Regions from separate parts of the Homo sapiens genome. Here region 2 is linked to region 1. The links come from fine-mapping of genetic effects on plasma protein levels. Region 1 holds a variant in brackets. A gene starts in the other region. All regions are shown on their forward strands.

Region 1 (5,386 bases):
ATATGACTGTATTTGGGATAAAAGACCTTTAAGAAGGTAATCAGGTTGAATTAAGTCATAAAGGTGGGGCACTAATTCAATAGGACTGGTGTCCTTTTAAGAAGAGGAAGGGACACCAGCAGTGTCTATGCAGGGAGGAAAAGCCATGAAAGGCAGCTGCGAGAAGGCAGCCATCTGCAAGCCAGGAGGAGAAGCCTCTCATAAACCAACCCTGCTGAACCCGTGACTTGGGACTTCTGGCCTCCAGAACCTTGAGAAAATAAATTTCTGTTGTTTACCACCTAGTCTGTGGTATTCTGTAATGGCAGCCTGAGGAGACTAATATAAGGCTTTTATTTTAAATTTACTTGAAAAATCCATTTACGCGGTTCTTGAAGTGCCAAAACGTTTTACTACATTAGTCTACTTTGGTCCTGGGAGAAGGCGCCTGAAAAAACTTACAGAAGATAATATCTGCAGTTCAACATTGTGAAAACCAAGACTCAGAGAATTTATACGAACCCAGGTCTTATGTAGCAATCTCAAGGTCTTTTATTACTGTAGACATGTGGCTTTCTCATCCTCTTTCTGTCCTATATAAATGTCTCCTCATAATTTACCTATCTTGTTTTGTACTTTTGGGTGTCTCTGTATAACTATCTCCCTCCTAGGTTAATATTAACTTGCTGGGTTAGGATTTTACACTCAAAGTAGTTTTGTCCTAGAACTCTGAAGTTCCACTTTCTTAGATCAGAGAGCATTTGATCAGACATTTGGCCTTCTTTTGAAAGAAATAAAGAAGGGAGCCAGGTGAAGGTGTGGACAAATGGATTCTAAACTCAAGCAACAGGGACTTCCTTAGACAAGTGGTTTCCAAACTTCTCTGACCCTAACAATCCCCTGGGAGCTTAAAAAAATTCTGATACCACGGTTGAATGCCCGACCAAATGCATCTAAAACTCTAGGGAGTAGAAATCAAGCATCAATATTTTAATGTCTCTGCAGGTGTTTCCAATACTCAGCCAAGGTTGAGAATCACCTTGGCTGTGTTAGATATTAATTACTTGGTTTGTTCCAGAAATTAAAAGATGTTCAATGTGGATAAAGAGTGAAAGGGAAAGAAGGACCAATAAAAGAGATATTATAGGTCAAAATAAGTTCTTTGATTCCTTGGGATTTTATTTTGGATGTAAAGCCATCAGGGGTTTTGAGCAGAAGGCATTATGTGATCTTATTTGCACAAGATAATTTTGCCTGCATAGTAAGGAATTGACTACAGGTGGATGAGGAGAATAGACACCAGTAAACACATATGGATGCTATTAGGAAAAAAAAAATCCTTAATTGATAACAATAAAGGTAGAAGTCATGTTTAAATGAAATATAATATTAAGCTGATTTTTTTGTTAGATTGCTTGTGTTTTCTTACAAGATGTTTTTAGAATAATATTTTAGTTGTTGGTGTATTCGTTTGCCAGGGCTACCATAATAAAATACCACAGAGTTGGTGGCTAAAATAACAGAAATTTATTTTCTCACAGTTCTAGAGGCCAGAAGTCCAAGATCCAGTTGTGGGCGGGTTTGATTTTTCTGAACCCTCTCTCCTTGTCTCACAGATGGCTGCCTTCTCACTGTGTCCTCACATTGCCTTTATTTTGTGAGGGACCATCCCTGACGTCTTTTTTTGCATCCTAATCTTCTGTTTTTAGAAGAACACCAGTCGGATTCAATTAGGGTCTACTGTTATGGCTTCATTTTAATTTAATAACTTATTCAAAACCACATTTTCAAATACAGTCACATTCTAGAGTACTGGGCATTAGGACTTCAACACATGAATTTTTGGGAAAACACAATTAACATTAACATTTGATGTTCTGAGATTTCACCATTGCTTCACATGTTTTCTAAACTATAAACTCATTCCATTTTGTTAATGGAAGTGTTATTTTTTACTATATTATTATTATTTTTTACTCTATTCCATGTATTCCTCTTCTCCTTCTGGAACTCATTTTAGAGAGATATTGGAACCTATGGATCTGTACTTCATTTCTCATCACTTATACTTTCCCTCTCATTTGCATTTATCTCTGTAGTCTGAGATAATCCCTTGGTAGATTTCTAGCCCAGTAATTTACACTTCAACCATGCCCATTAGGCTATTTAGACTATTGTTTCCAGCATAGGTGATCAACTTTTAAATGCCAAGACTTCTAATAAATTTTTCATAGCTGCAATATCCCCTTAGCTGTTTCTGAATGTATCAGTAATGCTTTATCTAAACTCTTCTGCTTGCTTCATTAACTTTGCTTCATTCTTCAGAACCTAAAATGCCTTTACCTTTGCAACAGTCTGCTTCAGAATCTGTTTTGCAATGCTTTTTTTTCTCTTGCTTTTCTTTGGATCTGATCCTACTTACTTTATATCTTTCAGGTATTGCTCATAACATTTGGGCTATAATGGCACTTTAAATTTTTTTCTTGTCTATTATGGATTTATTCTCCATTGTGTGTGTATATGTTTGGTATAGAAAATACATGCATGAATATATATGAAATATATATATATATCCTCTCTTATTTATATATTTTATAAAATATATGAAATCTTTTTTCTTCTTTCATGTAATCTTGGATGCATAGGCATTTTGCAGCATTTGTACACTTTGTCATCTTGAGTCAATCTATTATTTTGGAAAATCTTTGCATCCTAATCTTCTGTTCTCAGAATATTTATTTAATATTTTGTACTTATTGTTAATTTATGTTTGTTCCATAATGAGCTCTTTATTTATAGAAACTACCTCACTACTTTTCTTATTAAACCCTGCCAATTTTTATTTGAATACTATTTGTATTTGTTTTTTTAACTTTATTTTCAGTACTTACTTTTAGAGATAATATCAAGGTTTTGTTCTATCAATGGGAATTTTCTATCCACAAATGTTTTGGCATTATTTAGTAATACATTCACTACCCCCTTCCATACTGAAGGTAATATCTTCCTAGAAAAGTACAATAGGAGCTTTGGGGTATGCCAGGCAAAATGTAAACTAATACTGTTAAAACAAGAATAAATTTATTTTAATCATTTTTAATACTGATTAACAAGCAATATAATATTAAATACTATTAGACAATAAGT[G/T]TGGCAATGATATTTGTAAAATATAGATTCAGTAATTTTATTAATTTTACAGAATATACAGTAGAAACTGCAAGAATGGAACAGGTTACATGCATATTTTACAGGAAGAACACATGAAATGTAGTCTACTTTTATGAATAAAGCTTCTTATATCCGTTAAATATAAACTTGCCAAGGAAGTGAAAAGAAATAAGAATATTCTTAACCTTAAGTCTCAGTACAAATCTTATGAGAGACTTGAAAATATCTTCTGTTACTCACCAAGTGATAATTTGGAAAGAGACAGTAAACAATGACAGACTATGACAAGGAACTTGAAAATGAGAGTTTTAGTTCTGGCTATGCTTGTTACTAATTTGAGGAATTGAACGTTATTTTCTAAACCTGTTTGGTCTCTCTCTCTCTCTCTCTCCCTGTGTGTGTGTAACACTTAATCTAAGGTTCTCTACCAACTGGTTCCATCTCTAAGGTAAATAAACTCAGTTTTTTTGTTTTTTGTTTTTCTTTTCTCAAGGAGCCTGTAGTCTTTAGGAGAGTTAGAGATGTAAACCAATATCTCTGGGTGCTAGGACTATTCTCTTTCCTTTGCTAAGACTTATCTACAAATATTCTTTATGGATATAGAGAGGAAGAGTTTAAAATCCCATTGAACCAAGTACCTCTCCAGCTGTTCCTTCACCAGTAGGTTAGGTACATACTATCCCTTGATGTCTGCCAGCCACCCATAGATACTCCCTGCGTCCCATACTTTACAGTGATGGTAGTGCTACTGCTACTATCTGATTTTACAAGGAGTAGAGGGATTCTCTTACTCTTTCAAACATTGCTGGTTTTTAAATATGTATATATTTATTATATATATAATATATATGATAATATATGATCATCTTAGTCTGTTTTGTGTTGCTATAACAATACCTGAGACTAAGTAATTTATAAATAAAAGATATTTATTTTTTATAGTTCTGAAGACTGGGAATTACAAGATTGAGGAATCTATATGTGGCAAGATGTTGCATCATCTCATGGTGGAAGGCGGAAGGGCAAGAGAGCTCAAGCAAGGGCAAGACGGGGCCAAACTCACTTTTATAGAAAACTCACTGTCATGATACTAAACCATTCCCAACATAATGACATTAATCCATTCATGAAGGCAGAGCCCTGACGACCTAATCACCTCTTATTTGGCCCCAGTTCCCATCACTGTTGCACTGGAACTTTAGGAGACACATTCAAACCACAACAGAAGTATCTAACATAGTCAAACTCATAGAAATATAAAGTAAAATGGTGGTTGCCATTTCCCTATCATTGCTTCCTAATTTCTCTAATCCTTCCATTATCTTCTAGTCTAGTATAGACACCAGACTCAGACCTGGCCAAACATAGTACTTCACTCTCCTTCCCGTAAGAGATGGCTATGTATGGTTTGCCTGCCAAACATGCCTCTGTTCTAACTCCTGGAGCCCATTAATATATTGTTCAATGTGGCAAAGGGGAAATAAGGTAACAGATGGAATTAAGCTTGCTAATACCTTAATCTTAAAATAGGGAGATTATCCTGGATTTTCCAGGTGGGCCCAGGTAATTGCAAGGGGCTGGGGGGATGAGGAAATGAAATTGTTAAACAGGTATAGAGTTTCCATTTTGCAAGATGAAAAGTTCTGAATATCTATAGCACAATAATGTGAATATACTTTACATTACTGATCTAATATTGTTCTAAACTCTCTTTTTCTAAAAATAATATGACCCTGATACTTTTGAAGATTTAAGTTGTTATTTATTAAAGGAATTTGAAATTTCGATGGTTGTTTAAAGACTACACAGAGTGGATATGAGGGGTGGTAGGACATTGGGTATGATGTCTCTGAGACAGCTACTTTGTCGTAATGTGAAAGTATAGAACCTCGCTGCCTAGGCCTGGTGGTCAAGGACATTGAAAGAAACTGAGTTTCCTACCGTCTTATACTATTTTATGTAACATTTTTTCCTTTCCCATATACTGAAAACTCTTGGGAAAAACAAAACCAACAAACTAAAAAATACCTCAATGTCTTTTCACGTTATTCCAGAGGAAAAGAGTATTATTTCAGTCCACTGGTTTATCAGGAAAGGCACTGTGTTTGTGTGTGTGTGTGTGTGTGTGTGTGTGCATTTGCATGCATACATGTGTACATGCTCTGAACTATAATGTTAAGAGTGAAGAGAATTATCAAGAGGACAAGTAAGATAAGTTATTTGGCTGATATTGATACTG
Region 2 (5,386 bases), not on the chromosome of region 1:
ACGAAGACAAGGTGCCCAGACTTCAAAGGACCCAGGGGAGGACCCTGACCCGGTGAAAACTCCTTTAAATTTTCTCTGGGAGTGTTGGATGAAGCATTCAGGGAACATTCCATGGGACAGGAGGAAGAAGACTCCAGCCTGCAGTGGGGCAAGGCCCCCTCCATCTGTCAGTCCATAGGAAGTGGCTCTCCATATTCTAAAGGCAGGACTTGAGAGGGGTCTATTAGTGTCCAGATGTGGAATCCGGGACTTAGGGAAATACTTGAGCGCTGAAAGAATAAACTGTGTCACCAGAAGAAAACCCGGCAAAGTCAAAATTACCAAAAGTTGAATTAAAGGTCTTCAGACTGTAACATTGTGACAACTTTATTAATTGCTCTATTTAGCAGTCACAGGAAGGACAGTAACGTGTGAACAGGTTTTGTTGCTTTGATCTTTCTTATTTGCCCAGAATTCCTGAGTAGGCAGTTCAAGTGTGAGAAACCAGGACCTACTAGAAATTGGATGGATGATTCGTACTTGACTGATTTCACAGGCAAAATGGTGACAAGCCTTTCAGCAATTTTACTAGCAAAATAAGGCAATTATCTTTGATGGGTGCAATGGGAGTGCACACCTGTGTGTTTGTTATCTGGAGAAGGGGTGGGGGCTGCTTCTGTCCACAGGAGAAGGAAGGTCAGTGGGCAGTCTGGTCAGCTGAGCACCCCCCAGCCTGGCTGGCCCCTCATGCAACCCCAGCCCTGTCACTCGCTTTCTCTGGTCTCAGTAGGCTGCATGACCTCTTAGGCTGTTTCTAGCCAGGGCACTGAGCCAGGTATGGAAAAAGATACCAGCTTGGAGGTTAAGGCTGGGCCAGTGGGATCAGGAAGCTGCCCCAGCTGGGGATTAGCAGTCACGCAGCAGGTAGGATGTCCTAGTCTTGGCACAGCTAATCTTTAATGCCTCACTGGGAATTTTCAATAAGAAATTCATCTCGCGACCCTCATGGCTGGGGCCTTTGTCCCTAAGAGGCAAACATCTTCTATGTGAGAAGACTTTGTGTAACCTGGAGAGGGAAGAAGAGGAGGAGGAGGAGCACACAGGAGGAGTTGTCACTGTTTCTTTTTCCGGAATGACTCAGACCAGCCAGCCTGAACCTCGGGTGACCTCTGAGGATCCCAACCTCCCCACCCACCAAGGACCCTATATTATATATTATATAATATTAATCTTATGACAGATGCTCCTCATTTTATTTTATTTTTGTTTGTTTGTTTGAGACGGAGTTTCGCTCTTTTGCCCAGGCTATAGTGAAGTGGCACAATCTTGGCTCACTGCAACATCCACCCCCTGGGTTCAAGTAATTCTTCTGCTTCAGCCTCCAGAGTAGCTGGGATTACAGATGCCTGCCCCCACACCCGGCTAGATTTTGTATTTTTAGTAGAGACAGGGTTTCACCATGTTGGCCAGGCTGGTCTCGAACTCCTGACCTCAGGTGATCTGCCCGCCTCGGCCTCCCAAAGTGCTGGGATTACAGGTGTGAACCACCATGCCTGGCCAGATGGTCCTCATTTTATAATGGGTTGTGTCCCAGTAAACCCATAGTAAAGTTGAAATATTGAAGTCAAACCATCGTAAGCCGGGACCATATGCGCACATATTCATCAGCATCTTCTTCGCCATCTTTGCTGTTGCCGTGCATCATGGGCCTACCCTATGCTAAGCCTTCATGGGTATTACACTAATTTGACCTCACAGCATGCCCTTGAGGTGAGCACTGTTCTTAGTCCCATTTCACAGATAAAGAGCCTGAGGCTCAGCAAGGTGCGGTCTCTGGCCCAGGTCACATGGCCAGCAACCAGCAGAGAGAGAGTATTCATGCCCAGGACAGCCCAAGCCCAGTGCCAGGCTCTGAGCACTGCCCTCAAAGCCCCTCACCATCGTTTTGATTTCCTAGGTCCTTGCCTGTCCACCATGCCTCTGAGATCCAGGAACAGCGTGTTTACCCATTTTACAGATGAGGCAACTGAGGCCTGGGCCAACACCAGGTCTCGAGGTCACTGCATCATGCTCAGCACCCTGGGCTATGTTCCTGGGCTGGGACAAACTGCCTTCACAAGATTTCAGCACAGCCCTTGGCTCTGTGCTTCACAACTGGGGGAAGAGCGGGGCTCAGACGTTTGGAGAACCCGGTGTCAGGCAGCCAGGGAAGGAGGTGTGACAACCATTCAAGACCACAGGCAAGACTGCAGCAGGGGTCTAATGGTCTGGGCTCTTGGGGCCTGGCCATCACCTTCCTGCAGCCGCCCAGCTCTGTGCTGTAACAGTGGAGCCATGGTCAGTGTAGGAACAGCCAGCTCCTGGAGCCACTGGTCTTGTCCCACCGTTTGCTTGGTTGCATCATTTTGAGGACAGGCCCCCCAGGTCCTTGCTGAATTGCAGGTGGGTGAGCAGAAGGGCAGAGACCTATGGTGACCCTGAGCTCTGTGCCAGTCCTTCCCAGCCTGAGGCCAAGTGGGCACCCACCCGAGTTTCCTGTGCTGTTCCGGGTTGACACAGGCCCAATGCAGCAGGCGTTACAACCAACCCAAACATCAGTGGCCGAAGCAAAAACAGGATACTCAGGCCCAGGGACTCTCCCTCTCTGCTAACTGACCTCAGCCTGATATGGGTGGAAGGGTCTTCCCTGGTGGCCCAAATGCCTGGTTCCTGTCCTTGCAAGTATGGACAAGCCACCTCCCTCTCTGAACTTCAGCTTTCTCAACTGGAAAATGGAGCTCTGAAAACCTGCCTTACAGAGTTTTCATAAAGACTAACAGAAAAGTGCATCTAAAGTGCCCTTTAGGGACACCAAGCCCAGTGTCAGCACAAGCAGCTGCCAGGCATCTGCTGCACCTGCCGGGTGCAGACCCCTGGGGGCAGGACCCCTGGGAGGCTGTCTGACTCCTTGTGGGCCACAATTCTAGACCCATCTCGGTCCCTGTCTTGCTGAATGACCCCAGGCTGGTGGCTTCCCCTCTCTGAGCCTCAGTTTCCAAATGATGACGGAGTTAGACCGGATGGTCATTATGGGTCCTCCTGCCAGGACATTCTCCAATTCATTCATTCTCAGTCTTCTCCCAGTCCTCACCCACAAGGACCAAGGACCACCCCCTCGGTAGCTGCAGGCTCCATGAGGACCTGGTCTTAGTCTTGGCGGAAAGCCCTCTCCATAGCCATCCGTTTCAATTCAAGCATCCTGGGTGACCTTTGAGTTGGAAATCTCTCTCTCTGCTCATCCTGGAGAGGGGTTATTTTCCTTGGAGTGTCCTTGGATGATCCCAGAACCAAGGCTTGCTTCTGTGGGCAGCCTTCCATCCCATCTCCACCATATAATAGCCGCCACCATTCAGCAGAATCCCAGCAGACTGTGCAGTGGGGCAAGGATTTCATGAGCATCCTCCTCTAAACGCGTGAGTGGCGTGCTCCCCCCAGTGGCACCACACGTGGTGGTCTTTGGAAGGCTTTGGGGGCAAGAGGCAGAGGGGTGGGATTGCTTGGGTTAGCTAATATTTTGAATACAGCAGAGATAATCAATATATCTCTAAATGTGCTCTAAATGGCAAGTTCGTGATGAGTACTCACTAAAGATTCCATTTCCCTCTGGGCAATTCTTACTCCTGTTCTTCCCATGACTGTCCAGGTGTCAAGACAAATGGCAAATCAGAGTAAATTTAGAGATCTATAGATTATATTAAAATAAGTGTCAAACTAATGAACAATGCAGGGTCATGAGGTGGTCTCCATTGATTTGTTCATACTTATATTCAACAAAGATTTATTCGTTTACTGTACTGTACTAGGTGCAGGCTTTTTACTGGCGCCTGAGGATTCGACAGTGAAATAAGTCACAGTCCTTCCTCTAAGGAGTTCACAGCCTGGTAGGAAAGGTGGTCAAATCATCAGGGAAGTGTTATCCAAGACCTTGATCAGGATAATGAAGGCAGCAAGGTGGGACTCCTCCAACCTAGAATCTGGGAAGGGGCCTACAGTAGGCTTCACAGAGGGCATGATGTAGGAATTGACCTAAGTGGAAAAGTAAAGAAGAAGAAAAATATTTTAGGCAGAGAAGACAGCGTATGAAAAGGAACTTTGTGTCAAGAGTATGGGCTTGGAGTCAAGTCTGACTTTTCAAATCCCAGCTCCTCTGCTCACTGACTGTGTGTCTCCGGGCAAGTTGCTGTAGCTTTCTGACCTTGGCTGCCCATTTGTAAAATAGGAAATAACCACATCTATCTTAATGGAATGCTAAATGTTAAGAGTGATGGGAACTCACTGAAGAGTCCATTTCCCTCTGGGCAATTCTCACTCCTGTTCTTCCCATGACTGTCCAGGTGTCAAGACAAAAGATGCTTCAGCTTTGGAAACTTGTTCTCCTGTGCGGCGTGCTCACTGGGACCTCAGAGTCTCTTCTTGACAATCTTGGCAATGACCTAAGCAATGTCGTGGATAAGCTGGAACCTGTTCTTCACGAGGGACTTGAGACAGTTGACAATACTCTTAAAGGTAAATCAACAAGGGTGATGAACAGTGTCACCTAAATTAGCCTCCTAAACACTATGCCTGCATTACCAGAGGCTGCCACCAGGGGCTACTCTTTATGGGCGGTTTACTGAGAAAAGTGGCTATTCAATTCCTGACTCATTCGTTTATCTTTCTAGAAACAAGCAATGCCACAATGAATAGCCTTTTACATATTATATCCTGATAAACGTGCATAAGATAAATTCCTACAAGTGGGATTTCAAAAGTTCAAAAACTATGCTGTTGACAAATAATCTCCTATGTTAACACTTTCTCCAACAGTCTACGAAAGTGCCTTTTTTCCCACTCCTTTTCCAGCACTGGGTATGGACAACTTTAAATATTCTGCCTGTCTCACAGATGAAAAGCTATAACTTATTTCACTTTGCATTCCTCTAATTATGAAGGAGCCCTCTTCTTTTTTCATATATTTACTATGTACTTACATATTTTAACTTGAGGATTTTGTCTATATTCTTAGCATATTTTTCTTTTGGGTTGTTTAATATTCTTTTATGGACTTGTGTTAATTCAGTGAAAATTAAGGAAATTATCCCTACCTAGCCTTGGTATCTGTAAAGCTACCTACCTTTATATTTATTTATACCTCCTTTTTATGCTAACCTATTAAAATAACTTGGCTTTCTTTTTGTTTTATGGAAACATTAGCAGCACATCAAAAACAGTTTTTGTAGGAGGAGGTAACTTCTGCAAATGGCTGCCTTTCAAACCTTGTCAAGGGCTTAGGTAACTTTCAAAGATGCAGAAAGGACTCACACTCTAATTTCACAGCTGAGAAAACTGAGGCCCAGAGACAGAAATGTCTAAACCAAAGTCACCTCGT

Which allele goes with the higher level. Alleles are on the strand shown, and positions count from the first base shown. The strength of an association depends on the size of the effect and on how common the allele is.
In carriers of allele T in region 1, the plasma level of the protein whose gene starts at base 3,381 in region 2 tends to be higher than with G alone (moderate association).

What was found. PIP is the chance, under the fine-mapping model, that this variant and not a neighbour inherited with it causes the effect. Protein levels are from antibody-based Olink assays in UK Biobank. Linkage for the fine-mapping came from a reference panel and not from the study's own genotypes, which makes the PIPs less certain.
Region 2: it holds the start of BPIFA2, and the variant in region 1 is fine-mapped to the plasma level of the BPIFA2 protein (UK Biobank, PIP above 0.99).

Annotation. Positions count from the first base shown.
Region 1 is chr1:103,908,171-103,913,556 of GRCh38, forward strand. No RefSeq gene overlaps it. Among named protein-coding and RNA genes, the nearest start is that of AMY1C, 160 kb to the left of the region's middle. The variant G/T (reference allele first, on the strand shown) is at 3,127.
Region 2 is chr20:33,164,779-33,170,164 of GRCh38, forward strand. It overlaps BPIFA2 (BPI fold containing family A member 2), which reads left to right and starts at 3,381. Exons shown (of 9, transcript NM_080574.4): 1 at 3,381-3,431; 2 at 4,353-4,524. The coding sequence starts at 4,368. RefSeq lists enhancers at 1,519-2,020, 2,021-2,520.